7 separate regions of the Homo sapiens genome follow, and all the other regions are linked to region 7. The links come from fine-mapping of genetic effects on gene expression. A gene starts in region 7. Each other region holds a variant in brackets. All regions are shown on one strand. Distances are from middle to middle. Region 1 overlaps BAIAP2 (BAR/IMD domain containing adaptor protein 2). Region 2 overlaps BAIAP2 (BAR/IMD domain containing adaptor protein 2). Region 3 overlaps CHMP6 (charged multivesicular body protein 6). Region 4 has its middle 2.5 kb from the start of CHMP6. Region 5 overlaps BAIAP2 (BAR/IMD domain containing adaptor protein 2). Region 6 overlaps BAIAP2 (BAR/IMD domain containing adaptor protein 2). Region 7 holds the start of BAIAP2 (BAR/IMD domain containing adaptor protein 2).

Region 1 (4,000 bases), 22 kb before region 7:
TCAGGGGACGGGGACCCAGCACCCACTTTCAGCAGGGTGTGCCCCACAAGGCAGCTCCCAGGGTGACTGTCATTAAAATATTTTCCTATTTGACAGGCAAAACCTGATCCCAAATCAAAAAGCGGCTGGACACAGGACAGGGCCCCAGAGCTGCCTGAGGGCATCAGGCGACTACCAGGCGGGGGGGGGGGGGGGGTCTCACCGAGTTCTTTGGAGCCCTGGCTCTCGCTGGCCAGCTCCCCCATCTTCACCAGGGCGTCAAAGTAGCCTTTGGCTGCATACGTCACACCTGAGAGAGAAGAAAAGGGAGCAGTTATTTCCTCCACGAGGGACAGACAAGACCCCCAGCAAAAACACGGCAGTCTTGGCACGCACAGGCCCAACCCTGTCTCCTGCCCAGACAAGCTGGGAGAATACTCGACTCGCTGTGATTTCTGGGTTGGACAGAACCCATCTCTTGTTGATATTCTTGTTTCACCCCAATCATGAGAGCTCCCTTGACTCGTAAGAACACAACGTACCAGTTCAGGTCCTGAGCTATTCAAGTCAAATTGCAGAGAGCTGATCCCTATCACGTGCTACCAGGCAGGGCCGGGGGGAGGGAGTGTTGTACTAACTGTATTTCATGAGACAAAGAACCAACCCTGGGCAAGGAAACTGCAGAGCTGGGCAGTAGGAAGCCATTTCCCCACAGATCCCCAAGCTGAGCCTGGAGTGGGAGAACTATTTCCAATTGCTTCACAGTCTCAGACCAGGACGCCCGTCACAGCTGATCAAAGGAGGCTAAAGGCATTACTTGGTATTGCCGCCGCCTGAGGGGCCTCCCAGCATCTCAGAGGCAGAGTCTGATCTAATCAGAAGTGGGTGTGAAGGGCTCCGGGCCTGCTGAACTCCTCCACAGCCACAGGGGTGGAGCAGGCTCCTGGAAGAGCCTGGGCTTCCTCCTCAGGGACTCCAGGGAGTGCCTGGCAAACTCCTCCACCTGACAGGGAGCCCCGCCCTGACCTCCAGGCCGCAGAAAGGGCGGGGCAGGGCCCCGGAGAGCAGTGTAATTACAATTTCTAATCCGTTTTCTACAGAACCCACTTAGGGGCCTATAACTGGGCACTTTATCAGATTTTATTTATATACTTTTCAATTAAGCGCACAATTTGTTCTGCGGCACAAGACCACGTCCACAGAGGAATGAAGGCCTGTGCCTGGGACGGGTGTGCTGCCTCGAACAAAAGAAAAACGCAACAGCAGAAAAACGCAACAGCAGAAAAACGCAACAGCAGAAAAACGCAACAGCAGAAAAACGCAACAGCAGAAAAACGCAACAGCAGAAAAACGCAACAGCAGAAAAACGCAACAGCAGAAAAACGCAACAGCAGAAGTGAGACTCCAGGGCGGCTGGCTGCGGCTAAGGTGGCGGTGCTGCCTGGACGGCCGAGCTCATTCCCACCAGGCCATCAAGAAAAGCAGGAGCAGGAAGTAAAGCTCCAAGTCTCCACACTCAGCCCCGCCACCCTCATGAGGAACCAAACAGGAGCGGAAAGGCCCGAACGGAACCCACGCCTTGGTGGCATCAAAGGGCCGAAGTGCCTGCTCACCCAGAGGAGGGGAACACAGGCCCCGGCCCCCACCGCAACCCACTGAAAGCGGCATCCACACCACTTCCCCGTGTGCGGACGACGGGGAAGAAACCCACACCTCGGAGAGCCA[C/T]GTGAGGGCTACGGAAGACTCTACCGTAGATGAGGTCACCAAGTGTCCCACAGACGAGTGGCTCTGGAAAAAGGAAGCCATCGTCAGTCTGCAATGTGCAAGACCAGCCCCCATCTCCAGGGGTGGGATCATCTGGACTCTGGATTCTCATTGTAATGGCCAAGATTCAGACCCAGCCAGGAAGAGATGAACAACTGGTCTCATTCACAGGGCACGGAACTTAGCTGGGCCCGGAGAATCTGGACATCGTGTGCTGTGCCTAGAGATCATGGGGTCACCACAGTTGGAAGCCCTCTGCACCCACCTCGAGCCGGGCCTCAGCCTTCCTACTCTGATTCGGGAGCCTCTCTCCAGCGTCAACATTTCAGGCCAGAGGCAAAGGCAGCTCTCCCTGGGACCCCCATGAAGCTGCCCAACAACTGGGGTGCACCATAGGGAAGCAAACCAGGTGCAACTTCCACCAGGAGGCCACGCCGACCCTCAGAGCTGCCACAGGCTCTGCTGCCGACCTCCACTACCTCATCCAAGAAGCTCCTGGCTGGGGGACGGGGGTCACTGCCACAGCCCAAGCATCTCCACTGTCATGAAAACCCTGCAGACGGCCGGGCGCGGTGGCTCACCCCTGTAATCCTAGGCACTTTGGGAGGCTGAGGCGGGCGGATCACGAGGTCAGGAGATCGAGACCATCCTGGCTAACACAGTGAAACCCCGTCTCTACTAAAAATACAAAAAATTAGCCGGGCGTGGTGGCAGGCACCTGTGGTCCCAGCTACTCGGGAGGCTGAGGCAGGAGAATGGCGTGAACCCGGGAGGCAGAGTTTGCAGGGAGCCAAGATAGCGCCACTGCAGTCTGGCCTGGGCAACAGAGTGAGACTCCGTCTCAAAAAAAAACAAAACACCCTGCAGACTTTCGCTGGAGGAAGGACAGCTCTTTAAGACAATTTTGATGAGCAGGTCCCTCGGGTGCAACCCCGGGCCCAGGGATGTAGAGGAGGGGCAGGGTGGAGAGAAACAAGGCTGCTGCTGGGGCAGCCATGGGGGCCCCTGCAGGGTGCCGGGTGCAAACAGGAGGTGGCCCAAGGGAGCTCCCTGTCCCATTCATGCCCACAAGGAAACATGAAGGCCACCCCCAACTAGATGTGGCAGGCGGGCACAACTGGTCCACCTGGGGAGCTGAGAAGGAGGGCAGTGCCAGGGACAGGCCTTCTGCCAGGTGCTCGGTTGGAGTGCTTTCTCCCCAGGTGACAACGGAGTAAAGGTGGTAAAAAAGGAACGAGGGCTGACCAACTCCTGCCCCGTCCTTGACACCTCTAACCTGGCACCAAAACTGGACAACCAACTCCACCCAACCCATGGGTGCCGCAACACCAGGAAGCGGTGGAGGAGCCGGGGGCGCCGGCAGAGACGCAGCACGTGTCCCGGAAAACACACGATCTCCTCCCTGCTGGGGATGTGGACTCTGCCCATGAAGATGCTGCAGTTACAGGGACAGACACGGTAGAGGGTACAGGGAGACCGGGGGTCACTGTCCAAGAATAGCAAGTCCCCATCCATGGCAGGACTCAGCCAAGGGCACCTGCGGGGCCAACAGGGCAGGTGAGAAGGGCATCTGGCGACAAGGAAGCCACTCCCCACCAGGACGGAAAGACCCAGGTGCACCCAAGGCCCCGCAGTGGAGTGCCTGGGTGGGGTGGGGGCGATGGGAAGCGTCTCAGGGAGACAGTGGGAAGAATGGAATGTCCCTGCAGCCACCAGTCCCCCACACCCTCTGTCCCGGCTCTTTGTGAGAAGGAGCTGCAGGGCGTTCGCTCATTTCTCAAACCCGAAGCTGCTGCAGTTACCAACAGCTTCATCCCAGCCCTGATCCCACAGTTTCTACATGATCCTGAGGGACTGACATCCGCACCCCTCCCGTCTCTAGATGCCACAGGACAAGAGCAGCCCGCACAGGCAGGGGCGTGCTGCCACAGTGACAGCAGACCCAGTCCAGAATGCATGGGCTACACCTTCACTCAGAGCCGCTGTCCAGCTTTGTTGCTGGAACAGAAGACCTCCTTTCGCTCCTGACCAGGCCCCACAGGCTGTGCCCAAGTCCATCTGCCAGCTCAGGAGGCAGCTCCCACCCCACGGGGCCCGGGCACAGTTCTACCAGCTCAGGAGGCAGCTCCCACCCTTGGGGCCAGGGCACAGTTCTACCAGCTCAGGAGGCAGCTCCCACCCCAAGGGGCCCGGGCACAGTTCTACCAGCTCAGGAGGCAGCTCCCACCCCACGGGGCCCGGGCACAGTTCTACCAGC
Region 2 (4,000 bases), 39 kb before region 7:
GGACAGAGATGGCAGTGCCCAGCTGGCCTCATATGGAGCCTGTGGCTGGCCAGTGCAAAGGCTGGGCAGTACTGGGGGCCCCAATGTGCCCACGGAGGGGAGGAGCAGGACTTGAGGCCCACCAAAGGCTGCCATAGTGTTCTAAGTGGCCCCTACCTGGGGGAGAAGGGCACAGAGGGAGTGTGGTGATACGCGTAGCACTGAAAGGGTTAAAGGCAAGGAGGGCTGGTGGACAGGTGGAGGTAGGGTCCTTGGAGAGGGTCACTCAGGACGCTCTCAAAGGAGCACCCCACAAGGTTAGGGCCACAAGGAGGCAGGCACTGCTCTGACACAGCCGCGTCTAGTGAGCAGATGAACGAGAAGGATTAACTGCTCATCCCTGAAGACAGCACGGCATGCAAGCGGCCCACAGGAAGGGAGCCCACCGGAAGGCGGCCCACTTGAGGCGACGGCCGAGCTCCTTCCGATCGCTTCACACGATTCAAAGATTGAGGCCAAACCGGGGATGCCCTGGGTGGTCATCTGCTGAGCCCAGGAGACTGGGAGGGCTGGGGAGACCAGAAGCACAGGGGAAGGGATGGGGAGGGAGGTGAGGATGGTCCCGGAAGAGAGAGGGCAGCAAGGAAGTGCCACAAGATGCCCCAGACCCAGCACAGGCGCAGACCTGGCCGCCGGCTTGAAATCACAGGCACCAGGAAGTTTCCCCCAATGCCAAATGTGGGCACAGCCGGAATGCAAATGTGGCTGGAGACAGCTCTGTGGGTGAGCTGAGCCGAGGCTGGCTTCACAACCACACCCAGGGGTTCCCACGAATGGCTCTGGCTCAACACAGTGGGAAGGTGAAGGAGACAGAAAGCACTGTCAGTCATGGCTTTGCCAAGCCCATTCTTCCCTGTGGTTTAGAAAACAGAACTACATTATTCTCTTCCCAGCCCAACCTTTCCAACCTGGAGAGAAGTTGCAGGGATAGCAGAGCAAACACCCATTCACTTCGCCGAGGTTCCCTGGCGGTGTGCTTTGCCACAATCGCTTCACCACTCTTTCTGTGATGTATAGGTACACCCACATGCACTCACACGCATCCGTACATGCACACAGACACACAGGCACTTATGCATCCGTGCACACACACAGGCACTCACACGCATCTGTGCACGCACACAGACGCACAGACACGCATCCGTGCATGCACACACACAGGCACTCATACGCATCCGTGCACGCAGACACAGAGGCACTCAACGCATCCGTGCACGCACACAGGCACTCACGCATCCGTGCACGCACACACAGGCACTCACACATCCATGCACGCACACGAACAGGCACTCACACATCTGTGCACGTGCACACACACAGGCAACTCGTACGCATCCATGCACGCACAGACACAGGCATTCACATGTATCCGTGCATGCACACACACTGGCACTCACATGTATTTGTGCATACACACACGTACTCACACGCATCCATGCACGCACACCAGCACTCACGTATCCGTGCACGCACACACAGTGACACATGTACCAGTGCACGCACACTCACACGTATCCGTGCATGCACACACACCGGCACTCACACGTATCCATGCATGCACACAGACACACAGGCACTTTTTTCAGCCCCTTGAGACTCAACTGCAGACATCAGACAATGTGATGCTGCCCCTGCCCCCAATACTGCAGCTGTGTCCTAAGAGCAAGGACCTTCTCTGCCTCATCACGCCTCCATTGTGACACACAGGAAGGTTACCACAGACGCATCCTCCTCTCATCAACAGCACACACCATGCTCCTGAATGGCCCGACGATGCCATTGACAAGCTCCTCCCTGATCCAGGTTCTCATCAAGGGTCCCGCTGTGTTGCGTTGGCACGTGGCTTTAGTCTCTCTCATTTTAGGAAAACAAATCAGCATTCCACCTATTGGAAGACTGCTCCATAAGCACTTGAGACAAATAAGTGATACACGGGCTTAACCGTGAGCGACAAGGAACTGGCGCCTGCCAGCTCCCAGAGGACTCTCACCCTTCCTCTGGGGCGCTGGGCATCTTTAGTCCTTTAACCTAGAAGAGCCCCTCACACTTCGGCTTTCACAACAGTGAC[A/G]TTTTAAAGATTTGTGCCTTTTTTTACTCCAGAAAATACAACGTGTTCTTATAGTCTGCGAGTGACAAGAACCTGAGAGAGAGCGTGAATCTCAGAGACAGTGAAAAAGACTGGGGGAGGGAAGAGCCTGGGCCTCGGATGCTCTCAGCCCAGGGTTGGAGGCAGATCTGTGCAGATCGTCGTCCTCATCTGCGAGGGCAAACAGCAGCTCAGACCCTGCCCGAGGGTCCCCAAATGCTTGACTCCGAATCCCAAATGGAGCATAAACAGCATTTCATGATGATTTCAGTTAACACTCTGCTTAGTCAGTTAAAAGATCATTTCTACCAAAGCACGGCCCGAGACCAGCTTGGTGACTGCTCCCAGGAAGAAGGCTGGCGGCCCTGGCTGAGCCCAGGGTGAGGGGAGCAGCACAGCCTCCACCTCCCCACCCCGGCCTGGTACTCCTACAAACCAAGAGGTCCGAGTATCTGAAAGGCACCCCAGGTGGTAAAAGTTCTGAACTCCTGGGTAACCAAGAGACTGCACAGGAAGCTGGGACCACAGTGGTGGGGAAGGTCCGAGAAGGAGGCTTCGATCTCTGAGGAGCAGGGGTGCTGAGCCCTGGCATGGGGAGGGGCCGCTGGAGGGTCATGGGGACAGAAGGCCCCACGCCACCTACGAAGAGAGCTTCAACCCACTGGGGCCACCAGGGCCCCAGAGCAGGTACCCTCCACCTGCTACCTGTCTGCTGGCTGGGGGTCATCCTGGAGGTGACAGGCACCCAATACCCAGGGCTGTGGGAAGGGGCTCCAGGCCAGATGCCATTTTCTCATCAGGGAAGCGTGCATGTTTGTACCCGGCACCCGGGATTAAATCAGTAAGATGCAGGCTCATGACCACAGACAATGAGGTCCGTGAGGCCCACGGGACAGCCCGGCCCCAGAGCAAGGACTGGGGGTGTGTTCACCTGCTCAGCAGACAGCCCCACTCTGACACCAATGGCCCCTTCTCATACACCCACCTCCAAGCAGAGGACGCTGGGCGAAGAGGTCAGGAAAAATGAAAGAAAGGCAGAGCCTGCCAGACAGCGTCCGCCCGCCTGTGCTCAGAGTGGGAGGCGTGGCCTCTGGGCGCAGGTGTCTGCAAAGGTTGAAGACCCCACGGACTTGGGTCAGCACCTGCCAGAGCTCTCCCAGGAGGGTTAGCCTCCTTCTCGGACAGGGGCCAGGAATTCAGGAAATGCCAGGTTCGGGTGGGGACGTGGAGACGGCTGTGAGGCTGTGGCCCAAGTGGGGCCTGGAGCAGATCGTCTGCTCTTGGCACCAAGGTGAAACTGACGAGTGTGGGCGTCAAACAGGGCAGGAGAGTTTTCCACTGGACCCTGAGAAGTGCTCAGGTGGCCACAAGGCATGGACATAGGGACACTGAGGAGAGCCCCTCCTGTTCCCTGATTACATGGGTCAGGCCGGGCTGCGCAGGAGGAGGTGAAGGAGCAGGAAGCCGGAGGGAATCAAGGAACATTGTTGTGGACTGAGGTGGGGCCTGCGCAGGTCTCCCAACGCTGCCCTGGGGCACTCCAGCCATCTGGGAAAAGGGAGTGGCAGCCCTTGGGCAGGTGGAATGCAGATGGCCCAGCCCACCCTCCCCAAGCTTCTGAGGGCTGGAGCCAGCCGGGGAGGGCACGGCACCCACAGCCCGCAGGGAACCCCAGCCCTACGTGGGCGCTCGAAGGAGGAGCAACAGGACCAACACAACCACGATGATGGCCCAAGAGACTGGGAAGGCCGGGGAGGCCGGAAGCAGAGGGGGAGGGGGGGATGATCACGGACGAGAGGAGAGGCAGCAAGGAAATGGAACAAGATGCCCCAGACTCTGCAGAGGCATAGACCTGCATGCTCCGGCGCCTCCGTG
Region 3 (4,000 bases), 38 kb after region 7:
GCCAGTTCCGGGGACTTCGCACTAGGGAAGGGCACGCCCAGCTCTGGGGGAGGCAAGTGACAAACAGGAAGCCAATGGGGCTGACAGACAGGGCCAGGGACACGGGACAGTGGGCCAGGAAAGCACAGCCCCTCCCAGCGGGACTCAGAGAGGAGAAGAGCCCCAAAGATGGGTAAAGGAACAGAACAAACGTGGATGGACGGTTCTAAAGTCAGCTTCCCAGTGGGCAGGTTGGAGAGCCTGTGCTGAATGGTGCCACGGGGAGAGCCATCCCTGGCTGAGGGCTAATCCTGGGCTACACCCTGGGAATGAGCTGGTGCTGCTAAAGAAGCCTTTCCCCAGTTCTGATTTCTGAATGTGTCTCTTTGAATGGGGTATGGCTCTCTTATGAGGTTGCCCAGTTACCGAACCCCTGGGAAACCCAAGCCCAACCCCAAGGCCAGGCACGCACGCCCCCAAGCCAAACAGCCAGGCAGCAGGGCTTGCCCACGGCCCAGGAAGGCCTGGGAGCATTCTGTCTTGTTCCCTTCTAGAATCCACTTTTCTCCTGCGAATTCCAACCATTCAAAAGAATCAAACATGGAAATACCTGGGATCTTCTCAGGAAGGGGCTCGGAGGGAACCTCTGGCAGCTCTATTTGTTCCTGCAAGAAGCAAAGGGTAAGGCTATGAGCAGGTGACAGGTCTGCCCCGGGCTGCCTGGGCCTCCCCGAGAGGACACGGATCCTGTCCGTCAGCCGCTCTCAGCCGGAGTTAAAGCGGACAGGAACGTGCTGCTCAGAAGACCCAAGTCTGCAACCGCCCCGGCTTCTGGTGCCACCAGAATCCCCTAGGTGGTGACGCAGCCGCTACCATGGAGGCTCCTCCCAACAGACCCTGGGGCGCTGAGGGGCTGTAAGGAGGCGACGTCCTGGGTGTGCCCCAGAGACCCTGGCTCTCAGGGACCGAGGGGTGGGTGACACAGACACCCAGGTCACGCTGGTGTCCACCACTGCGGGGTGGGCTGCGGTACAACGCTGTCCCAGCGAGCTTGGCTGCCTAAGCCAGCACGGGTGCTTCTGCCTCTCAGCTGGCCTTCCCTGGAGGCCCCGGAGGACTCGGACCCTCAGGAGAAAGTAACTGGACAAGCAAGTGGGTGCAGGCACCATGGGCCGCACAGCACCAGGGCGCCGGGGCAGCTGGCAGCAGGGCTGGGGCAGAGGCCGGCTCTGGGGGCACCATGAGAATTTGGCGGACTGAGGCAGGGGCCCACAGAGAGGACAACCCCTGTGTCGGGGAGTGAATACAGACTCAGAGCCTGGATGTGAGCCTGGGGCCAGGACGCGGCCCCCGCAGCGAGGGCCTATGTGGGACGTGAGTCAGCAGCCACGGCTGGGGAAAGCCAGCACCACATCCGTGACAGCCGGGGACAGAAAGGGGCCGAGGCGCCAGGAAGGCCCAGCACCCCCGCTCTGTCCAGGGCACGGGGCCAGCCTGCCTGCACCAGACCGTTGGGTGAGCAACCCTGAAAACAGAGTCACCTCAGG[T/G]AGGAAAACCAGTCACAAACCGCAGACTATTTACTTAAAGGACACCACATACGAGATCACCATGGGCAGGGCCTCCTGGGGGTCTGAGCTCTGGGGGTCCCGCTGCCTGAGTGACTGTGCTCAGTCCCGGGGGGGCCGTTACCTGAGTGATTGCGCTCAGCTCCTCCAGGATGGCGTCTTCATCCTCCTGAGTGAAGCTTCCTGCCAGGAGCTCGTCTATTTGCTGCAAAAGGACAGGCGGTGGTGAGAGCAGCGAGGAGGTGGCCCCTCAGGGAGGAAGGAGATGGCCTGTGGCTGGGTCTCGTCCCCTTGAGAGAAGGCGGCCGCTCTAGGATGTGGGACAGTTTGGCCCTCGAGGGTGGCCTTGTGGGTTCTCACAGTTGGGGGCAGGCCGGTCAGGGTGCCACCTACCCGCTGGTACTCCACGGCCTCCTGCGTCTCGTCCAGGATCCTCTCCACCTCTTCAATGGACATCACCTGTGGACGAGGGTGATGGGTGTTGACCCCTGTCGCGAGGCCAATGGTAGACCCCCGACAGAGGCCTCCTGGGCTCTCAGGGCCATGGCCTCACCCCTCTGTTTATTTTTATTTATTTTTAAAGACAAGGTCTGGCTGTGTTGCCCAGGCTGGGCTCAAGCGATCCGTCCAAGTAGCTGGGACTACAGGTGCATGCCACCACACCCAGCTCCTGTCCCTGTTTAAATGAGGCCAGGACATGTGTGTCCCAGGCATGGGCCTGTCCTGAGGCCACAGGGGCCGTTTGATGAGTCTTTTCAGAGGCCACGACTGCACTGCCCTGGCGCCCGATGCCCCCTCTCACCCTGAGTCAGCTCTCACAGCCGCCAGTAAAAACAAGCAACAGGTAGAACATTCTGGGCAGGTGACTTGATTTCTTTTGAGTGGCAAAAGGTCAAAGGGCCACTTGTGCTTGACCGGCACACACCACCAGTACTCACCAAACACTTGGAAAAGTAGCACAGCCAGACCTCCCGCCAGGTGAGTCCCTGGCTCTCCAACTAGCCCCACCTACTGGCCCCCATGTCAGGAGTGTGATGGGGTTGGTGGGGGAACGTGGTATGGCCACGCTGGGCTTCACATCCATGCCCGGCCTGAGATGAGGCCGGTATTCACCTCCTCCAGGAAGCCTTCTTTTTTTTTTTTCCTGAGACGGAGTTTTGCTCTTATCATCCAGGCTGGAGTGCAGTGGCGCAATCTCATCTCACTGCAACCTCTGCCTCCCGGTTCAAGAGATTCTCCTGCCTCAGCCTCTTGAGTAGCTGGGTTTACAGGTGCCTGCCACCACGCCTGGCTCATTTTTGTATTATTAGTAGAGACAGGGTTTCACCATGTTGGCCAGGCTGGTCTCGAACTCCTGACCTCAGGTGATCTGCCTGCCTTGGCCTCCAAAAGTGATTACAGGTGTGAGCCACCACACCCGCCACCTCCAGGAAGCCTTCTGTGATTAGTTTGCCAGCCCCCTCCCCACCCTCAGACTTCCCTTCTATGTCACTTCGGCGCCTGGGGACCCAGTTCCCACAGTTCCCAGCCTGTGCTGCACCCGGTCACTGCATCCCTGCCTGCCTGGCAGCACCCAACACATCTCCCCTGCCAGCCTCTTGCCCTGTGTCTGACACGAACACCGTGGGACAAGCCCCCCGCCCTATCCCCAGCTCCAGCCCAATGGGCTCCCCACACCTCCATGCCCCTGGCCCTGCAGAGACTCACCTGGTGCATCTTGTTCAGACACTCATTTCCAAACTGCAGCCCCTCCATCACTTTCATTTCGATCTGGGTGAACTCAATACTCTGAACCTGAAAAGGAAACCAGAGCAGACGCAGGTGCTGAGGATCCGGGGTGCCCTCCTCCCGGCCCTGGGGCAGGGTTCAGGATGACACCCTTGCTGGGCGGGTGCTGCTGGGCGTGAGGGTGACTCCTGACACCTGCTCCTCCCTGTCCTCTCCCACTGCCAGGTGGGGATGCGCAGGACTGAGCAGGTGCCAGGGACACACTCAGGGGACCGCTGGTTGCTTGTTAGTAGCTCTGGTTACCAAAGAGCAGAACCACGCCGCTCGGGTCCCTAACACCAGGGACACTCAGTCCCCATGCAGACCCCTGACCTACCCACACCACCCAGGGGTGGCCCAACCTTCCCCACCTCAGTCCTGCGAGAGCCAACCTGCCCCCCAGCCTCTTAAGACCATTAGCTTCCTGGCAGACTCCCCGGGATTCCAGGCCCGCCCCTCTTCAGGTCAGCTTCAGCCCGAGGCATCTGAGAGGAGCTTTCAGCTCTCGGGAGAAATTTCTGATGTCCACGCAGCCGGGCGGAGCTGCCTCCAGCTGCACCTGCACTCCAGGGCGAAGCACCCGGCCGCCTACCATGGCCTCCAGGCTGCTGATCTGGTTCTCCGTCCTGTCCAGGAGCTGCTCCTGGTATCGCTTCTTCTTGAGCAGCAGCTTGGCCCGTCTGCAGAGG
Region 4 (4,143 bases), 45 kb after region 7:
TTTTTTAGATGGAGTCCTGCTCTGTCGCCCAGGGTGGAGTGCAGGGGCGCTATCTCGGCTCACTACAAACTCTGCCTCCCGGGTTCAAGTGATTTTCCTGCTTCAGCCTCCTGAGTAGCTGGGACTACAGGTGCCTGCTGCCACACCCGGCTAATGTTTGTTAGTAGAGACGGGGTTTCACCATATTGGCCAGGCTGGCCTTGAGCTCCTGACCTTCTGATCCACCCACCTCGGGCTCCCAAAGTGCTGGGATGACAGGCGTGAGCCGCCGCACCCGGCCCGCTTTGCACTTTAAAATGTTCCCTGAAATGCGACCAGCAGCGCCCTCCACCCAGCCTTTCAGCCCTGGGATCTTCCCTCTTCCACTGCGCTGCTCCCTGTCTGTAGATCAGTGCCAGGAGGAGACCAGCATGGCTGGGCTCAGCTTCTCCTTCCAAGGAATCGTGGCTGCGTCCCCCACAGAAGCATTCTTCCCTGGGGGGCTAAGAAACACATGAATGGGGATAAAGGGTAAAAGGGAGAAGCCACCCCGGTTCCCGCCTGAGTATCCTGACTGTGGTTCCTGAGCATTCACTAAGTGTCAAAGAAAAGCACTCAGCTGAGGATGGCTTGAGGCCAGGAGTTCAAGACCAGCCTGGCAACATAGCAAGACCCCCGTCTCTACAAAAAATATAACAAATAACATCAAAAGGAGAATAATTATCACCTGTTCCAAACCTCTGGACTCCAGAACCTTCACTGAGGTGAGGGGGCCCCTGAATTTTTGTGGGGTTCATCTCCCACCCTCTGATTTGTCTCACCAAGACATCTGAAGTACTTTTTTCCTTGGTGTCCATGGGGACGTTGAGGAAAAAAAAAAAAAAGACTTGCTACTCCCTGCTCCTCATGAAGGGGGAAGGAAGAGCTGGGTAGAGGAAGGCGTGATCCTTGGCTAGGGATCCCCCCACCGCCTGTGCCCACAAACCTAGGTGAGGACAGGGATTTTTGTTTTCCTGCCCAAATGTTGCATTTCCAAAGACCACCCTGGCCTGCCACGCCCCCATCCTGTCCCTATAAAATCCCCGAGACTCTAGCAGACTCCATCTGGCCAGGTGTGGTGGCTCACGCCTGTAATACCAGCACTTTGGGAGGCTGAGGTGGGTGGATCACCTGAGGTCAGGAGTTCGACATCAGCCTGGCCTCACATAGTGGACCGTGTCTCTACAAAACTACAAAAGTTAGTGGGGCATGGTGGCATGCACCTGTAATCGCAGCTACTTGGGAGGCTGAGGCAGGAGAATCGCTTGAACTTGGGAGGTGGAGGTTGCAGTGAGCTGAGATCACACCACTGTACTCCAGCCTGGGCGACAGTGTGATACTCTGTCTCCAAAAAAAGAAAAAGAAAAAGAAAAGGAATTGGAATCCATTTGATGCCAGTGTCTTGTCATTCCTGAGACGCTTGAGTATTTCCCTCCCTCTGTTACACAGTTACTTTGGTAAACAGGTACAGGTCCCTTTGGGGGACTCTTCCCGTGGCTTTGCTGCTGTATTCCTTGCAGCAATGCTTCAGGGGTCTCCCTCAAGGAACCTGGCCCCCAACTCAAGGGCTCCAGGTCTGTGAATTGGCTCAGCCTGGAAACAGGTGAGAGGCCGTGGCTGTCCACTGTGGTGACTCAAGTCAGGTTTGGCCACCAGACCCAGAGTTTTGTTTCTGTTGTGTAAGACAAACAGCACTCTGGTCTGCCAACCCTTTGTTTCACCCTGGGCACTGTGATTCGCCGGAGGACCCTGCAGGCCACGGCATCCCGAGCGCCAGTTCCTTCTGCCGCCGCTGGCACACACAGCCCGCGTGGGACTTGACGGCGGCGGTTGCCCCCTGTCCTGCTGCTGCTCTGGGATGTGTCACCCCATGGAGATCAAGGAGCGCATCTCTGCCGGGGCACCCCTCTCCCCGCGGTCACACTTGGCCTACGAAGGAGAGCAGTAGCAGGACTTTTCAGGGTGCAGGGGCTCCCCTCGCCCGGGTGTTCCTCACGTCCGGGAAGGTGGTGCTTCTGAGCCTGCAGGGCGTGGCTGGGTGTGGGCGTGCAGGTCACACTCACGGACTGCCTGTCCGTGGACCTTCGGATTCTCTCCTCCACAGCAGGCCATGGAGGGTCTGGGGTCTTGGGTTCGTGACCTGCGGGCCTCTGGGTCTGAGCTTCAGCCGTCGCG[C/T]GAGGGAGCGCTTAGCTGTGGCTGCAGCTGCAGACCCGGCAGAGCGATCAAGGCCCCCAGATCAGGGACTTCAGCCCCCTCTAGTGTTCCGATTCGGTGTTCCCGGTCCAACCCCCCCGAATCCACTCCCGCAGGTTCTCCCCAGGTTCCCCGCGATATCTATCTGAAATATCTCTGAATTCTTGTAGCATGTAAGCCAGGGTTTGCCAAACTACAGCCTGCGGGCCACATCCGGCCTGGAATCTATTTTTTTGTACAGCCTTTGAGTTAAGAGTGGATTTTACATTTCTTAAGGATTGTAAAACACACACACACACACACACACACACACACACACACACACACCGAAAAGGAGGAGGAATGGAGGAGGGAGAAGGAGAAGAGCAAGAGCAAGGTGGCCAGAGGCCGTATGTGGCTCACGGAGCCTGATATTTACTGTTTGATTTTTTATTTTTATTTTTTTTTGAGACAGAGTCTCACTTTGTCACCCAGGCTGGAATGCAGTGGTGTGATCTCAGCTCACTGCAGCCTCTGCCTCCCAGGTTCAAGCGATTCTCCTGCCTCAGCCTCCTGAGTAGCTGGTACTACAGGCAGCTGCCACCGCGCCCAGCTAATTTTTTTTTGTATTTTTGGTAGAGAAGGAGTTTCACCAAGTTGACCAGGCTGATCACAAACTCCTGACCTCAGGTAATCCACCCACCTCGGCCTCCCAAAGTGCTGGGATTACAAGCGTGAGCCACCGTGCCTGGGTGCTGTTTGTTCTCTTACAGAAAAAATTCCCAAGTCCCAGCATGAGCTGTTGTCTTCTGTGTCACGCTGTCCCGGATCCCTAAGATCTGATGCTAATTGTAGGCAACAGGAGGTGGCTGTGCTGGCTTGGGGAGGACGGCAACCTCTCACAAGGGTCTTAACGGTGGGCTCTTGAGGGTTTTCAAACTCAGGAGCACCAGCAACCTCAGCCACCACCACTCCCACTGGCAAGGGAGCCTCGGGGCACCCTGGCAGGAGCCGACTGTGAGCTCCACGGGGTTCCGGGCGCTGCCTCCACTCTGGGTCAGGGGTGCTGTCCTGTCAGCATTCTGCCTCTCAAGTGAGGACACGGGCAAGGCTGTGCGCTCAGCTGACCCTGTGATCAGGTGACACGCGGGACTGAACATTGTGTTTGATTTCCAGCAATGTCAGCCCCGTAGGGACCACAAACAGCAGCTCCTGTGAGGGCTGCCACGAACATTCTCTGCCTCTCAGCTGACCCGAGGCCTGGGAGGAGCTGCTCCTGCCAGCCATCTGATTGCTGTGAACGCCCAGTGTGTGGAGCAGGAACCCCCAGTCCACAGTCCTGGGGTGTCCTTGCTGTTCTGCTCTGAAGGGCAGCAGCCGCTTGGGCACCCCGGCACCAGTCTCACCCAGCCCTTTTTTTTACCCAACCAGAGGCCACAGCAAATCCACTGCAAAGTGGGGCCCAGCACCCCGTTTCCCATTGGCAGGAAACTCAGCCAGGCATTCACACCCTAGGGACGATGCAAACAGTCCCCAAATGCCCTCCTGGGACCTCTCCTTGTGCTAACTCTGTACCATTAGGTTCCAGGCAGGAGACAGAAACCACACCAGTAATTTGAACAGGAACATTTAATATAAAGAATTATAAACTAGAAAAGGAGGTTTCACTATTAAAAGGTTACAAGAGAACTCTGAGGAATACAGGAATAGCAGTGCCAGAAGCAGCGTGTGTTTCTAGGACAGACAGGGAGCACACGAGGAGAAACCAAGAACCTGGAAGAACATCCCAACTCAAGGCTGGGCCTGGCTCTGCTGGACCCTGCAGGCTGCCCCTGCCCGCAGTGGAGGAAGTTGCCCTGGGCTCTGCTGGACCCTGCAGGCTTCCCCTGCCCGCGGTGGAGGAAGTTGCCCTGGGCTCTGCTGGACCCTGCAGGCTGTCCCTGCCCGTGGTGG
Region 5 (4,000 bases), 55 kb before region 7:
GTTAGGGACAGCTAGGAGGCCTGTGGGGTGGGGTGGGGTGGGGTGGGGCCACATAAATGGGGGTGGGGTGCACTGGAGGGACGGGGCCTCCTGCACCAAGGGGTGGGGCCACACAAGCAAGGGCAGGGCCTCCTGCACCACACAAGTCGGGGCACACAAGTGGGGGCGGGTCCACACAAGTGGGGGCGGGGTGGAATGCACTGGAGGGGCGGGGCTGCACATGAGTAGGCGGGGCCAGCCAGCCCAGTTCCCCAGCCCAGGGTGCTTCCTCTCTTCAGAAGTGGAGAGGACATGCAACAGCTGGGCCCCCAGCGGCCACACCCTAAAGTAGAAGTCCCACAGAGCCCGCTGGCCGGGTTTGCAAAGGCAATGGGAACCAGCAGGAACAGCCCTGGGTGGGGCAAGGGGCCTGGAGCAGCGAGGCCGGCAGCACATCCCAGCCAGGCAGCCACATGGCACTCACCCCAGGATGGTGGCCGCAGCCTCCCCGCAGCTCGGGGGGCGCGTACGCAGCCACATACCAAGTGCCCCACCCCCTCAAACTCCGATGTGGGGCTGGGGATGCTGACGGCTCCGAGGCCTGGCCTCCTGGGCTTCCAGGCCACTGGGGAGCAGAAAGCACACCGGGGTGTGGCTCCCTCTGTTTCCCACCCCAAAATGTTGTTTCGAAACCACTTAGCACTTACTAGCTATCTGCTGCGTGACCAGCTTGTGCTTGGCACCAAGTGGGACGCAGGAGAAATGAGACCTAGCCCTTCCTGAAGAAACTCGGTGACTTGGGAAAAACCACAAAAATAAAACACCTGTGTGGTTAAGAGTTGAAGCCCCGTCTCCCATTGACAGAGGAAGGAGGCGGATGGGGAGGAGCAGAGGCGGAGGTCCGTCCAGGAGAGCCCCCACGCAGGCACCGTGAGAAGGTTGATGTCGGCTCATCCTGGCTCTACAGCCCTTCCCGTCAGTGCTCAGAAGAGGGAGAAAGCCAGGATATTCCCCCTCACAAATGGGGAAACTGAGGCTCAGAGAAGCTCTGGGGCTTGCTGCGGCCACATGACCCATAAGGGACAGAGCCAGATCCAAGCCTAAGCCTGACACCAGGGCCTTGAGGCTGTGCCCAGGTGGGGACAGTCCAGCCTGGGGCCACCCACAGGTCCCCTGGTGAGTGGGGAGGAGCAGCTGCAAGTTCTAGAGAAAGGAGGCTGCTCAGCCAGGGCTGGGGAGCCACAGCAGGGCCCCTGGGACCTGGGAAGAAAGACCAGCACCACACATCTCCCAGGAGGGGCCCTGGGAGGCCGAGAAGATGAGGCTCGCCAAGCGTCTCTGTACCGGGTGGCAGAGGCCTTTCCAAGGGGGCTGCTGGGCCACCCTCACCTCACACCCACTGCAACCTCCACCTACCATGCGCTTCGGGGCCCTGCCTGCCCTCTCCGCCCACATGGTCCCCGCCCAGACCCACTCACAGGTGCTAGGGGGACCATTTGCCTCGGCAACTAGCAGCCACAGATGGGAATGCTGCCCTCATTCCTGACCCTGCCGGGCTCCGGGGTCTGGCCCATCAGGACGCAGACAGCCTGTAAGGCCACGACCCCCTCCCTCTCCCCCTCCGCCTGCCCTCCTGCGGACGAGGGGGGCTTTGTGACGACTGTGGCAGCCGTTGGGAAACAGGTGCTGTGGCTTACTCCCAAAACTGGGTCACCTGGCTTACCACGAAAGGGCACTCAAGGGGCCCCAGGACGGGCCCAGCCACCAGCCACCTTAGTTCTGTTGCCAAATGGTTCAGTCAGCCCCTGGGGCACCCAGCAGCGGCCCCTTGCCCAGACCGTGGACCACAGCACTGAGGCAGGGCCAAGGCCCCTCGAGTCACCGCCAGGTCCAGCCCCCTGTGGCTGCGAATCAGGTGACCCTTGGGCCAGTCAACGAAGGGTCCACCGAGGCACTGGAGGTGGCTCACAGCCCCCATGAGAAGAACAGATGGGACCTGCCTCCAGGGCCCCTGAGGCACCAACATGGTCCCCCAACAGACCTCAAAAGTGCCAGGACATGCAGCAAACAGACAGACCAGCCATCAGCAAGGAGAAGGTCTTCCAAAACCCCTGTGTGGGATGGGCTTGAGGAGCTAGCTGTGCACACACAGCCTCGGGAGTAAATCCCACCACCCGGGGCCCACGGCAGAGCAGCGCGGAGGGCAGGCAGAGGCCAGGTGTGCGGTCAGGGCCCTCCTG[A/C]AGAGGCCTGGCAGTGGGAGGCAGGGCACCTGAAAACCAGGGAGCTGGTGCGGCAGGGCCACAGTGACTGCGTGGGGGCCTCAGGCCTCTGGCTCCAGCCTGCAGGAGGGAGGGGGAGTGGCTCCGACAGCCCCCAGCCTCTGCCTTTGTCCGGCCCTATGCTACCCCGCCGCGATCTCCAGCTCCCAGCGAGCTCAGCCACAGGGCAGTACCGGCCGTGCCAGGGAGACGGCCCTGGCCCTGAGCAGGATGGAGCCTCCGGTACCCACACGATGGAACACGATTTAGCCATGAAAAGGAAGAAAGGCTGACCCCCGACAGTAAGAGGGGAGGAGGCTGGCGCAGGCTACGGCACGATGAGCTTTAAGAACCCTCCGTGCCACGTGAGCCACCAGGCACCAAAGGCCGGACACTGTGGGATTCCAGCTACGCAGAATGTCCATAACAGGCAAGTCTACGGAGGCCAATGGCAGGCTGGTGACTGGTGGGGCCAGGGGCCCAGGAGTGACTGCTGATTGAAAAATGCTCTAAAACGGACTGAGTGATGGACACACAGCTGCAAACACTCATAACCACTGGACTGTGCCCGTGAAATGGTGAACTGCTGGTGATGTGAATTATATCTCAAAAACGCTGTTAGCAAAAACCCACAGAGCCTCGAGGGCAGAAGGGAGCTCAAGCTCCTGGACCCCCAGCAGGCAGCTGAGCCCTCAGTGAACTGGCCTCAGTATCCCCATCCCCAGAACACCAAGCTGGGGACATTCCCAGGAAAGTCCCCCTTAAGACAAGCTCTCACACCTGGCCTCGGTGCTCAGGGCTGGCTCACACCTGCACTGTCCTGACCTGCTCGGAGGCGGCTATGGCCCTCCAGGCCGCAGGGGTGCCGTCCGCTGCTTGTCTTCAGAAAGCAAAGTAGCAAAACGTTCCACGGTGGGAGGAAGAAGAAAAACAGACACAGTGTCTACCAACATATACCTATTTCTCCTCCTCAACTCCCCATGCCCACTGCTCAGGTTCTGTTCACAGAAACAGCTTGAGGACGGCTCGCTGCAGCAGCCTCAGGCAGGAATACTAAGGCCACCATGATGGGCCCATCATAGAAAGACCCATGATGGCAGCTTACCCGGAGTGCAAAACGGAAAGGATCAAAAGACCCATCACAGCTTACCTGGAGTGAAAAACAGGATCAAAACAAAGGCTGGGGACACGGGAAGAGGTGGCTGGAGAGGGCAGGGCACCCTAGAGAACGGCCTGAGTTGCGTCCCTGCAACTGTGCACCAAGCATGCCTGAGTGGGAGGCTGCAAACAGCAGCGGGCACCCGAGGGACCCCCAGCTCCCCCGTATGGCTGTTTCCACAGACTCTCACTTATCCTTCTCATCTGCCCCTGGCCTAGTCCCGTCCTCTCCTTTGGGGCCGATCCAGCTCCACCAGGCGACCCCACACTGGAAATCTTCTGGCTTGGTCTGCAGGGTGTGGGCAGACCTGCTTGGCTTCCCTGCAGTTAAGCAGGGAGCGGGGGCACAGGCTCTGAGCAGGAACCGGCCTCCCAGTCCCAGGGCGAGGCCACAGCCACTCATGAGCACCCACATCCGGCACCAAGGAGACGGTCGCACACACACACGCAGACACACGCACACGGGCAGGTGTGTGCGGGGCTTGCCAAGGCTTGAAAACCTGACTGCCAGCAGGAAGGGTGCGGCCTGGAGGCCCGGGCTTCACCCACAGCCACACCTTGCCCACCCCAGGGTGCAGCCCAGAAGCTTCTACCTGGGTGACTGG
Region 6 (4,000 bases), 68 kb before region 7:
CCCCACTGAGCACCAGAGGCTTGACAAGAGGGAGCTGGATGCTGGGCAGGCACACGTGTGTGTACCACATGCATGTAGGTACACACGGTCACATAATTGTGAGCCTCAGGGTCTCCCAGGCCCCTATTGAGGGTTGTGGCATGACTGTAGGGTCTGAGGAGGCACGTCCAGGGACCCCAGCCCAACACCCCAGCGGAGCCCTTACTGGTGGCATAGCTGTTTTTTGGGGTCACGCTCTTGCGCACGGGGAGTGTGTTGGAGTAGGAGTCGCTGAGCTTGCTCTGAGACTGCGGAGGAGACAGGGATTTGGGCTGGGCAGCCTTGCGGTCAGCCCACGGGCTGTAGTCCTCGCCATCCGGGCCTGTGACGCCGTTCATGATGGGTGTGCTCTCCTGGGCAGACATCCGCTGCAGGGAAGCAGGCAGAGCAGGCTGTTGCTGGAGCCCACCCCGGGCAAGACCAGGGGGAAAGAGAACCCTCCGCCCCCTCAGCAGGGGCCCCTGGACTCTGCACCCTGGCGGCCCCCCGCCCTGACAACAAGCTGCCCTCCCACCCACACCCGTGAAGCTTTCCAGAGGCCACAGACTCACCCCCACGAACGGTGCCAGCTCGGGGGGCACCGGCAGGGGCTTGGCCCCCGGAATGGGGTCGGAAATGACCAGGTTGGACTTGGAGGCCGACAGGGCGCTGGGGAGGGTGGCGCCGTTGCTGGCCACCTGCTGCATGAGCTGCACCGCGCGCTCCGGGATCTTGCTGGGGTCGGCACAGGCCTGTTGCCACAGCGGCAGCTTCTGCGCCAGCAGCTCCTTGCCCTGAAGTGGAAGCAGCAGGAAGGGAGGGGTCAGGGCCGGCTCAGTCTCCTGCAGCCAGGCACAGCGCTGAGGGCCCTCCCTGAGCACTCTCTGGGGCTGGAGGCTGCTCTTCACCAGGTGGTACCTCTCGGCGAGACAGGCCACCCGTGAGCCTCTGACCCCAACCCACAGAAGCGGCTGCCGGTAAAGGGCCGGGGATGGACCACAAGCCATGCAGTCGGGGGACCTCCAGGGATGAGAGCAAACCCAGGCTCAACGCCCGCGGGGCCCATCAGGGCCTGGAGGAAGGAGGAACGGACAGGGACGCACAAGGTCAAACTCCGGTGGGCAAACCCCAAAGTGCCAGGAAGGCGCCCCAGATGGCCGGGGGAGGGGGTGGTGCTGCCCAGTGGGGGTCAGGCCTGGCTGCCGAGGGCAGGAAGGCAGCCCCGTCAGACACACTGAGGCTCACTGCTCCAACCACTGCCCTTGGGCCCAAGAGCCCGCGCTCCCTCGGGCGTACTCTGCGGCCTGCTGGACACAGACCAGCTGAGCACAGTGGGGACAAAGGAGGAGGAAGCCACAGGCATGGAGAAAGGTTCTGGGACTGGGAGCCGGCCGGGCCTGGGTCCTGGGAGCTAATCAAGTAACCCCTGCCCCTCCTGGCCATTTGGCCTAAGCAGGCTGCAGGGCCTGGATTCCCGGGACCCCCAGACCCTTAAGCTGTGGGCCAGAACTGCTATGTCTCTGGCACCTCTGGGGGCCTCTCCGGCTTTCACTGCTCCCCCCA[AC/C]TCATCCCCGTTCCCTTCTACATGTGGCTGGGCACCCACGCTGGGGACCCACGGAGGATGTTGGACGACAGCCATTCTGAGCAAGTCCTCCCCATGCCACCCCTACCCCTCTGCTGCTGGCTCAGACCAGGGGTCAGCAAACCACAGCCCGAGGGCTGGCTTCCTGTTTTGTAAATAAAGTTTTATTGCAACACAGCTGTGCATCGATTTGTGAATCATTCATTCATGGCTGCCCTCACATTGCAGTAACAGAGCTGGAGACGGCACGGCCCACAGAGCCAAAAGCACAAACTTTGTGGCCCTTCAGAACGTCTGCCGAGCCCTGGCTGAGATCAGTGGTAGAGGAGTGAGTCTTGGGTGGCGCGGAGAGGCCAGCAGGGACCAGCACTAGGGCAGACGGCCGAGGGACACCGACCTCGCAGCGGCACGGCCCTGACACAGCGGCCACGAGCCAGCGTCACCCCCGCACCCTGAGAGCCCCGAGGCAGGCCCAAACCCAAGCACCAGGGAGCTACTACGAACTGCCCTGGGAGGCTGCCCTCACACCCTGGCCCCCAGCCCAGAGGCTCGTCTCTAAGTGGGTCTGTGGGACACAGGCCTCTTCCACACACGCCCGGGGGCCCACGAGCCCAGGAGGTCAGCTGCTGCCACCGCAGGCACATCCCGCAACCCCTCCTGGGAGACCTGCGGCAAGCAGCCTGGCTTCCCCGCCCTCCATCCCTGCAGGCAGCACCCCAGCCACTGACAGCCCCGCTCTCACTCCCTGGCCCCGTCATGGGGCCTGGCCCCCGCCAGAGGGCGCAGACGCCCGCCACTGTCCTGGGTCTAGCAGGCGGGAGGCCTGCGCTCCACAGCGCTCCCTGCCTGGCAGCTGTGGCAGCACAGCCTGTCACCGCTGAGTCCTTCAGCAGCGAGGCTGCCTCCAGGGGTCAAAGGTGCTGCTGCTGTCCTTGCCTGCACCTGCCCACAGTGCCCAGCAGGCCCAGGCCGGCAGGAGGGGCCTCTCCAGGGAGGGAAGAGCACTTGTCTCCTGGCTGTCCCCAGGCTGTGGGGACTGGAGCACTGGTTCTGTATCACGTGCGTGTGTGTGTGTGTGCACGCACGCGCACGTACATGAGAGTGTGGTGGGTGGGGGGAACAAGTGTCAAGGTATAGCCCGTGGATCCCTGCAACCCTTTATTTTAGAAAGACATGACCAGGGCCTCCCTGGTGGGCTTGGCTCCGGAACTACATCTTCGAAACTCTTGAAATGTTCCAGAATGTTCCAGGGGACACATGTGATCCCATCCCAACTCCTACCCATGGACTATGGGTGAACAGGGGCCTGCTGGCCCTGCCTGTTCCCGGTGGGGAGTCTGGCCTCTGGGCCTTGCCTGCTCTGGGGGCTAAGTCAGCCTCCTAGGAGGGGATCCCCTTGCTCACATCGGGGCTCAGGATATCCATGGAGGGGGCTGCTGCAGCCCGTCCCTGAGGAACTCGCTCCTGGTTCAGCAGGGCCAGGCTTGGTCCTGGGACATGGCGGATCCCAGGGCGGGATTCCCCCACAAGGAACGACAAGGCTGGGGATGCCGGAAACACAGGGCTGCAGGACTGTGCTGGGGGACGCCTAGCGGGAGACACAGGGCCGCAGGACTGTGCCGGGGGACACCTAGCGGGAGACACAGGGCCGCAGGACTGTGCCGGGGGACGCCTAGCGGGAAACACAGGGCCAAGAGTCTACCGGCCCAAGGAGGGGCCCTCAACAGATGACGGGCAGAGGGGTCTCTCAGAGGTCACGAGGGCAGCAGCATGTGGCCACCACCCAAGGCCCCACCTGGGACCACAGTGGCTCAGGGGTGCAGGCAGAGGTGGTAGAGGCACAGGTCACCAAGAGCCTGGGAGCCAGGGGAGGACCCTGTGACCAGGTTTGAGTCCCAGGGAGGCCACTCTGGAGCAGTGAGGGAGGGACTGGGGAGGCCACCTGAGAGCCAGGCAGGGCCCCTGGCTACCCAGGAAGCAAAGAGATAGGGCAGGTTTGGGTTGGGTGAGGGGTGGCAGGTCCACGTACGACAGCCGAGCTATGGCAGCTGCTGGACCTGGGGCCAGTGTCATGGTTGTCTTGGGTGGCCTAGGGGCCCAGTGGCACAGTGGTCTTGGGTGGCTGGGGACCCAGGCTTGGGGCTGGGGGTCCTCAGTGCCTCGGGTGAGCAGAGCCATGAGCCCAGAGGCTGTACCCCAGGACTGTGGATAGAGGGGCCACAGGAAGAGCAAGTGAGGACACAGAGGCCACCCACCAGGTGTCCCACCGGGACTCCGGCACCCAGCACGGAGCATGACCGTCCCCTGCCTGGCGTCAGCCTGCACCTGCCCAGGACATGGCTGTGGCAGAAGAGCCAAGAACATTCTAGAAGAATGTTCTAGAAGGCCTTGAAAGCCCAT
Region 7 (4,000 bases):
GTGGCTCCGACGTGGCTTTAGGACTCATCTAGTCGACCGCACACCCGCCTTCAGAAACCTTCCAGACTGACGCGGCCCCAACTTCACAAGCTTTATTGAAAGCTGTATTCAAGTGCAATCGGCCCCCTGCACTCCAGCTGGAACCAGAGGGGCCACCCCTGAAGCCTCCATCTGGCTCTCCCAAGCCTGAGAGCTAAGAGGGCTTCCCAGGCCCCTGGCCAGGCACGCCTTGGCCGCCTACCACAATCAGAAACAGTTACTCTGCCGGGCAGGGTGCAAGCCGGTTAGGAAACATGAACCAGCGACTGCCGGGTAAATACCCACTCCACTCATCGCCCAGCCTGTCACTGAACCTGCAGACAGTTTTGAAACAAAGCACATCTGTAAGAGATCGCCCAGGACCCAGGGACACCCAGAGCAGGGGTTTCTCCTCTGAGAAAATGCTCCCCGGCAGCTGCCGGGCTCAGGCGTGGGGGTCTGGACCGAGAACGGATGCTGAAGAAAGAGAAAACCAAGGGCCTGTTTGTCGGTATCCCAGCCACAAAAACGACTGGGGAGGGGGCGGCAGGGGAGGCTTCCAGCGGTGCTCTGCGGCCCTTGGATGTGAACCTGTCATTTCGCAGACGAGAACGTGGATGCCACTCTTAACACATCTGAAGCAAAGGCAGGCACGTCAGCCTCCTACACAATTAGTCTTCTCTCTCCGCGGTTACATAAGATGATAGATTATCCGTCCACCCATCCAGCCTGCCCGCGCTCCGACCTCCCACCTTAGGCCCCAGCATGGGCGCCGGGCAGGAGTTGTGGGAAGGGAAAGCCTGTTGAGAATGAAGTGCCCGAGGCTCGCGCAACCGCGCCTGGAGGAGCCCCACGGTGCCACCGCGCCGACCGCGGCCTTCAGACAGCCCCCATGCCGTCCTGGCCGCCGCAACCCCTGGGCCCGCCGCCCCCGCCGCCCCGGCCCTGCCCGGGTGTGCTACGACCCCGACCGGTCCGAGGGCTTCCGGGGCCCGGCGCGCGGCTCCGTTCCCGCCGACGCCAAGGCGAGCGCGCGGGGGCCGAGCAGGGCCGTCGGAGCGGGGAGTGCTCCCCGGGCCTGGGGCTGGGGACTGACCGGGCCGCGGCGCGCATGGGATGGGGGGGCCCGGGCGGGGGTGGCCACCTGTGAGCGGCCGGCGCCGGGCTCACCACCCCAGCAGCCCGGGTCCCGGGTGGCCGCGCCGGGAAGACCCCCAAAGTCCCAGCCTCCTGGCCCGGCGCGCGGCCCCGGGGCCGCCCTGGTCGGGCTCGGGCGCGCGGGCGGCGCGCGACCCAGGCGCACACGGAGCGGGCTCAGCTCGGCGCCGGGGGGCGCTCACCTTATAGACATTTTCCGTGAGCCGGTGCATCTCCTCTGAGCGAGACAGAGACATGGTCCTGGGTCCCGGCTGCACCACAGACCGGAGCGGGGGACGCAAGCGGCGGCAGCAGCGGCGGTAACGGCAGCAGGACGGAGACGAAAGCGGACCCGAACCACAGAGCCCGGCGTCCGGCGGCGGCCACCTTTATAGCCGCCTCAGGCCCCGCCCCGCGGCAGTCCCCGCCCCTGCGTCCCGCCCCCGTTGCGCCCGCATCACCGCCCCCGACCACCCGCCCCCGCCCGGCGCTGCCGCTGCTAGGCAACCGCCAGGCCCCGCCCCCGCACCGCCCTTTCCATTGGTGGGTTCCGGAGAAGGGGGAGGGGGGCGGGATCGGAGGTGGGGCCTAGTGGCCGACTCCAGGCAGCGATTGGTCTGCGGCGGCGTCGATCCTGGGGGAGGAGAGGGGAGGCGCGGCGCGGGCTGGGGCCCTGGGAGCAGCCTGAGGGGGCCCGGGCAACAGCCGGGCTGGGGGCGGGGAGGCGGGGGCGGGGTGGCGCAGGAAGAAGGAGCAGAAGGTGCGGGGAGGAGAGCGGGGGGCGCCGGCGGCAGCGCGCGTGGAGGCGGCACTTCGCGAAGTGGCACTTCGGGGCGGGCGGCCCGCCGGGTCGCGGCCTGGCGCTGCGGGGCGGGGAGCGGCTCGGACGCAGGACGCCGCGGGCCGGGCTTACAGGTGGGAGAGGCCCCGACCCCGCCGCTTCGCAGGTAAGCCCGCCGGGCGGGCGGCGACCCCCCGGCCGGCCCCTCGGGGCAGAGAGGAGAACCCTGGGGGAGGGGGTGCTGCAGGAGGACCCTGGAGAGAGCTCGGCCCTGGAGTGGGGGACGACTTGGAGAAGGAGGATTTCGGGGGAGCATCGTGAGGAGAGGACTTGGAGGGAGGATCCTGCAGAAGGTGAACTCTGGGGAGGACCCCAGACAGGCAGACAGCGCTTGGGGGCTTGGGGCCGGGATTCTGGAGAGGGGAGGACCCTGGGAGAGGAGGGTTGGGGAAGAGGATCTTGGAGGAGGGCCCTGGGAAGGAGGATCTGGAGAGGGGACAGGGGAGTGTCCTGCTGGAAGGCCTGGGGACAGGGCGACCCTTAGGGACGGGGAGGACCCTCCTGCCGTCAGAAGATTCTCGTTGGAGGCAGTTTACTGAGAGAGAGAGGTCTCGGGAAGGAAGGGTCGAGGGCAGTAGGAAACGAGGGGCCCGGAGGACTCTCATGCGGTGGAAAGCCCTAGGGGGTGGGGGAACCTTGTAGGAGGAATGGAGGAGTCAGAGCTGCCTCCAATTTTTAGGAAGGGTCCTGCTTAAGGGTCCTCCCAAGGGGAGATTCTGCCGGGGAAGCTGGCCGAGTTGGCACACAGGTCTCCCGGTACAATTCCCGTGGAGAAATATTTACATAAATTAGGCTAACATAGAGGAATTATTTGTTTTACGTTGTGAAACACCAGATCTGAGCGTTTCCGTTTAATGAAACCTCTCAGTCTCCCAGCCTCCCATCCCTGCAAAATCATTCATTCATTCATTCCTTCAACGAGTCAGGCCCCTGGGGGAGACGCAGTTGTGCTGGCTGGCCGGCAGATCCCCAGACTGGCACGGGCTCAGGCCGATGGAAAGACCAGGGAAGTAAGATTCAGGAAGCATTGCCTCCCTCCCACCACAGCCCCGCGCCTCCTCTCCTCCGGCTGAATTTCCTTCCAGCTACTGGCCCTGGCTGCTTCCTTTTTCTTTATTGTCTCCAGTGTTTGGGGGTAGATCCCTGTGTATTTATTTTCTAGGATTCTTTTGGTGGTAAATGACAGAAAGCTCGCTCAAACTGGCCCTAACAAATGAGGGCATTTACCTGAAGGTAGGAGCATCTCCACTGACCCTGACCCCCTTCTTCTAGGCCAGCTTCCTGCTGTGTTCCCTGCACCCACCGATCTCACACGCAGCCCTAGGACAGACGTCCACTGGCCTGAGTTGGGTCTGGGGCCAACACGGAGCAGGTGGGGGTAGAGCAGCTCTGCTCGCCTGGAGGAAAGTTGAATGGCTGGAACCAAGATGACAGATGGAGGCTGGCAGGCAAACACGGGAGGCCTCCTCACTCCAAGAGGGGAGTCAGCCTGGGGACAGTTCTTCTCCAGGCCCTGCTGCTCCCATCAGCTGCAACACAGGAGAGGTAGGCTTCTCCGGAAAAGCTCCCACGGTCCTGGATCCCGCTCCACCTTCTAGAAGCTCCCAGCGTTACTTCCTGAGCTGGCCTGCACATCGTTGCGCTACTCCCGTCCAAGGGGGGACATATTCGGTGACCGACTCAGAACGCAGCCTGCTTCCCGGGTGGCCAGTGGCTCAGCAGTCTCGGTGCCTGAGCCTGCTCCCTCCGCCCGGCGGCTGGGCAGGTGGCTGAATGCGGGCTGGAGGCCTTCCCTGAGAAGACGGTTATCCATGCTGTACATGGAAGTGACCAGCTCGGCACCTGAGGAGACACACCGCGGCCGATGACAGGCGCAGAGCAGGACGTGGTGAGGTCCTCATACCTAGGAATGCAGAACAAGGGCAAGAAACTCGGTGCCCGCCTGGCATCTGCCCTGCACCAGTGGCCTCCAGGAAGTTCTCCACCAAGGATGTTCCCCAGGCA

The links. PIP is the estimated chance that this variant, and not a neighbour inherited with it, causes the effect.
Region 1: its variant is fine-mapped to the expression of BAIAP2 in tibial nerve (GTEx, PIP 0.99).
Region 2: its variant is fine-mapped to the expression of BAIAP2 in monocytes (TOPMed, PIP 0.99).
Region 3: its variant is fine-mapped to the expression of BAIAP2 in whole blood (TOPMed, PIP above 0.99).
Region 4: its variant is fine-mapped to the expression of BAIAP2 in whole blood (INTERVAL, PIP 0.92).
Region 5: its variant is fine-mapped to the expression of BAIAP2 in lung (TOPMed, PIP 0.96).
Region 6: its variant is fine-mapped to the expression of BAIAP2 in blood mononuclear cells (TOPMed, PIP above 0.99).

Annotation. Positions count from the first base shown.
Region 1 is chr17:81,054,170-81,058,169 of GRCh38, reverse strand. It overlaps BAIAP2 (BAR/IMD domain containing adaptor protein 2), which reads right to left. Exons shown (of 14, transcript NM_001144888.2): 3 at 203-289. Among named protein-coding and RNA genes, the nearest start is that of BAIAP2, 21 kb to the right of the region's middle. RefSeq lists enhancers at 1-289, 290-1,179, 1,180-2,071. The variant C/T (reference allele first, on the strand shown) is at 1,705.
Region 2 is chr17:81,071,884-81,075,883 of GRCh38, reverse strand. All of the region lies in intron 3 of BAIAP2 (BAR/IMD domain containing adaptor protein 2), which reads right to left. Among named protein-coding and RNA genes, the nearest start is that of BAIAP2, 39 kb to the right of the region's middle. The variant A/G (reference allele first, on the strand shown) is at 2,108.
Region 3 is chr17:80,995,010-80,999,009 of GRCh38, reverse strand. It overlaps CHMP6 (charged multivesicular body protein 6), which reads right to left. Exons shown (of 8, transcript NM_024591.5): 3 at 3,904-3,991; 4 at 3,252-3,338; 5 at 1,938-2,003; 6 at 1,669-1,749; 7 at 590-644. Among named protein-coding and RNA genes, the nearest start is that of CHMP6, 5.2 kb to the right of the region's middle. The variant T/G (reference allele first, on the strand shown) is at 1,527.
Region 4 is chr17:80,987,280-80,991,422 of GRCh38, reverse strand. No RefSeq gene overlaps it. Among named protein-coding and RNA genes, the nearest start is that of CHMP6, 2.5 kb to the left of the region's middle. RefSeq lists an enhancer at 2,037-2,226. The variant C/T (reference allele first, on the strand shown) is at 2,194.
Region 5 is chr17:81,087,235-81,091,234 of GRCh38, reverse strand. All of the region lies in intron 6 of BAIAP2 (BAR/IMD domain containing adaptor protein 2), which reads right to left. Among named protein-coding and RNA genes, the nearest start is that of MIR657, 36 kb to the left of the region's middle. RefSeq lists an enhancer at 1,003-1,504. The variant A/C (reference allele first, on the strand shown) is at 2,220.
Region 6 is chr17:81,100,314-81,104,313 of GRCh38, reverse strand. BAIAP2 (BAR/IMD domain containing adaptor protein 2) reads right to left here. Exons shown (of 14, transcript NM_001144888.2): 8 at 591-812; 9 at 206-407. Among named protein-coding and RNA genes, the nearest start is that of MIR657, 23 kb to the left of the region's middle. RefSeq lists enhancers at 1,579-2,095, 2,096-2,613. The variant AC/C (reference allele first, on the strand shown) is at 1,582.
Region 7 is chr17:81,032,667-81,036,666 of GRCh38, reverse strand. It overlaps BAIAP2 (BAR/IMD domain containing adaptor protein 2), which reads right to left and starts at 1,516. Exons shown (of 14, transcript NM_001144888.2): 1 at 1,359-1,516. The coding sequence starts at 1,412. It overlaps BAIAP2-DT (BAIAP2 divergent transcript), which reads left to right and starts at 1,948. Exons shown (of 2, transcript NR_026857.1): 1 at 1,948-2,102; 2 at 3,269-4,000. RefSeq lists an enhancer at 704-1,699 and a silencer at 1,571-1,880.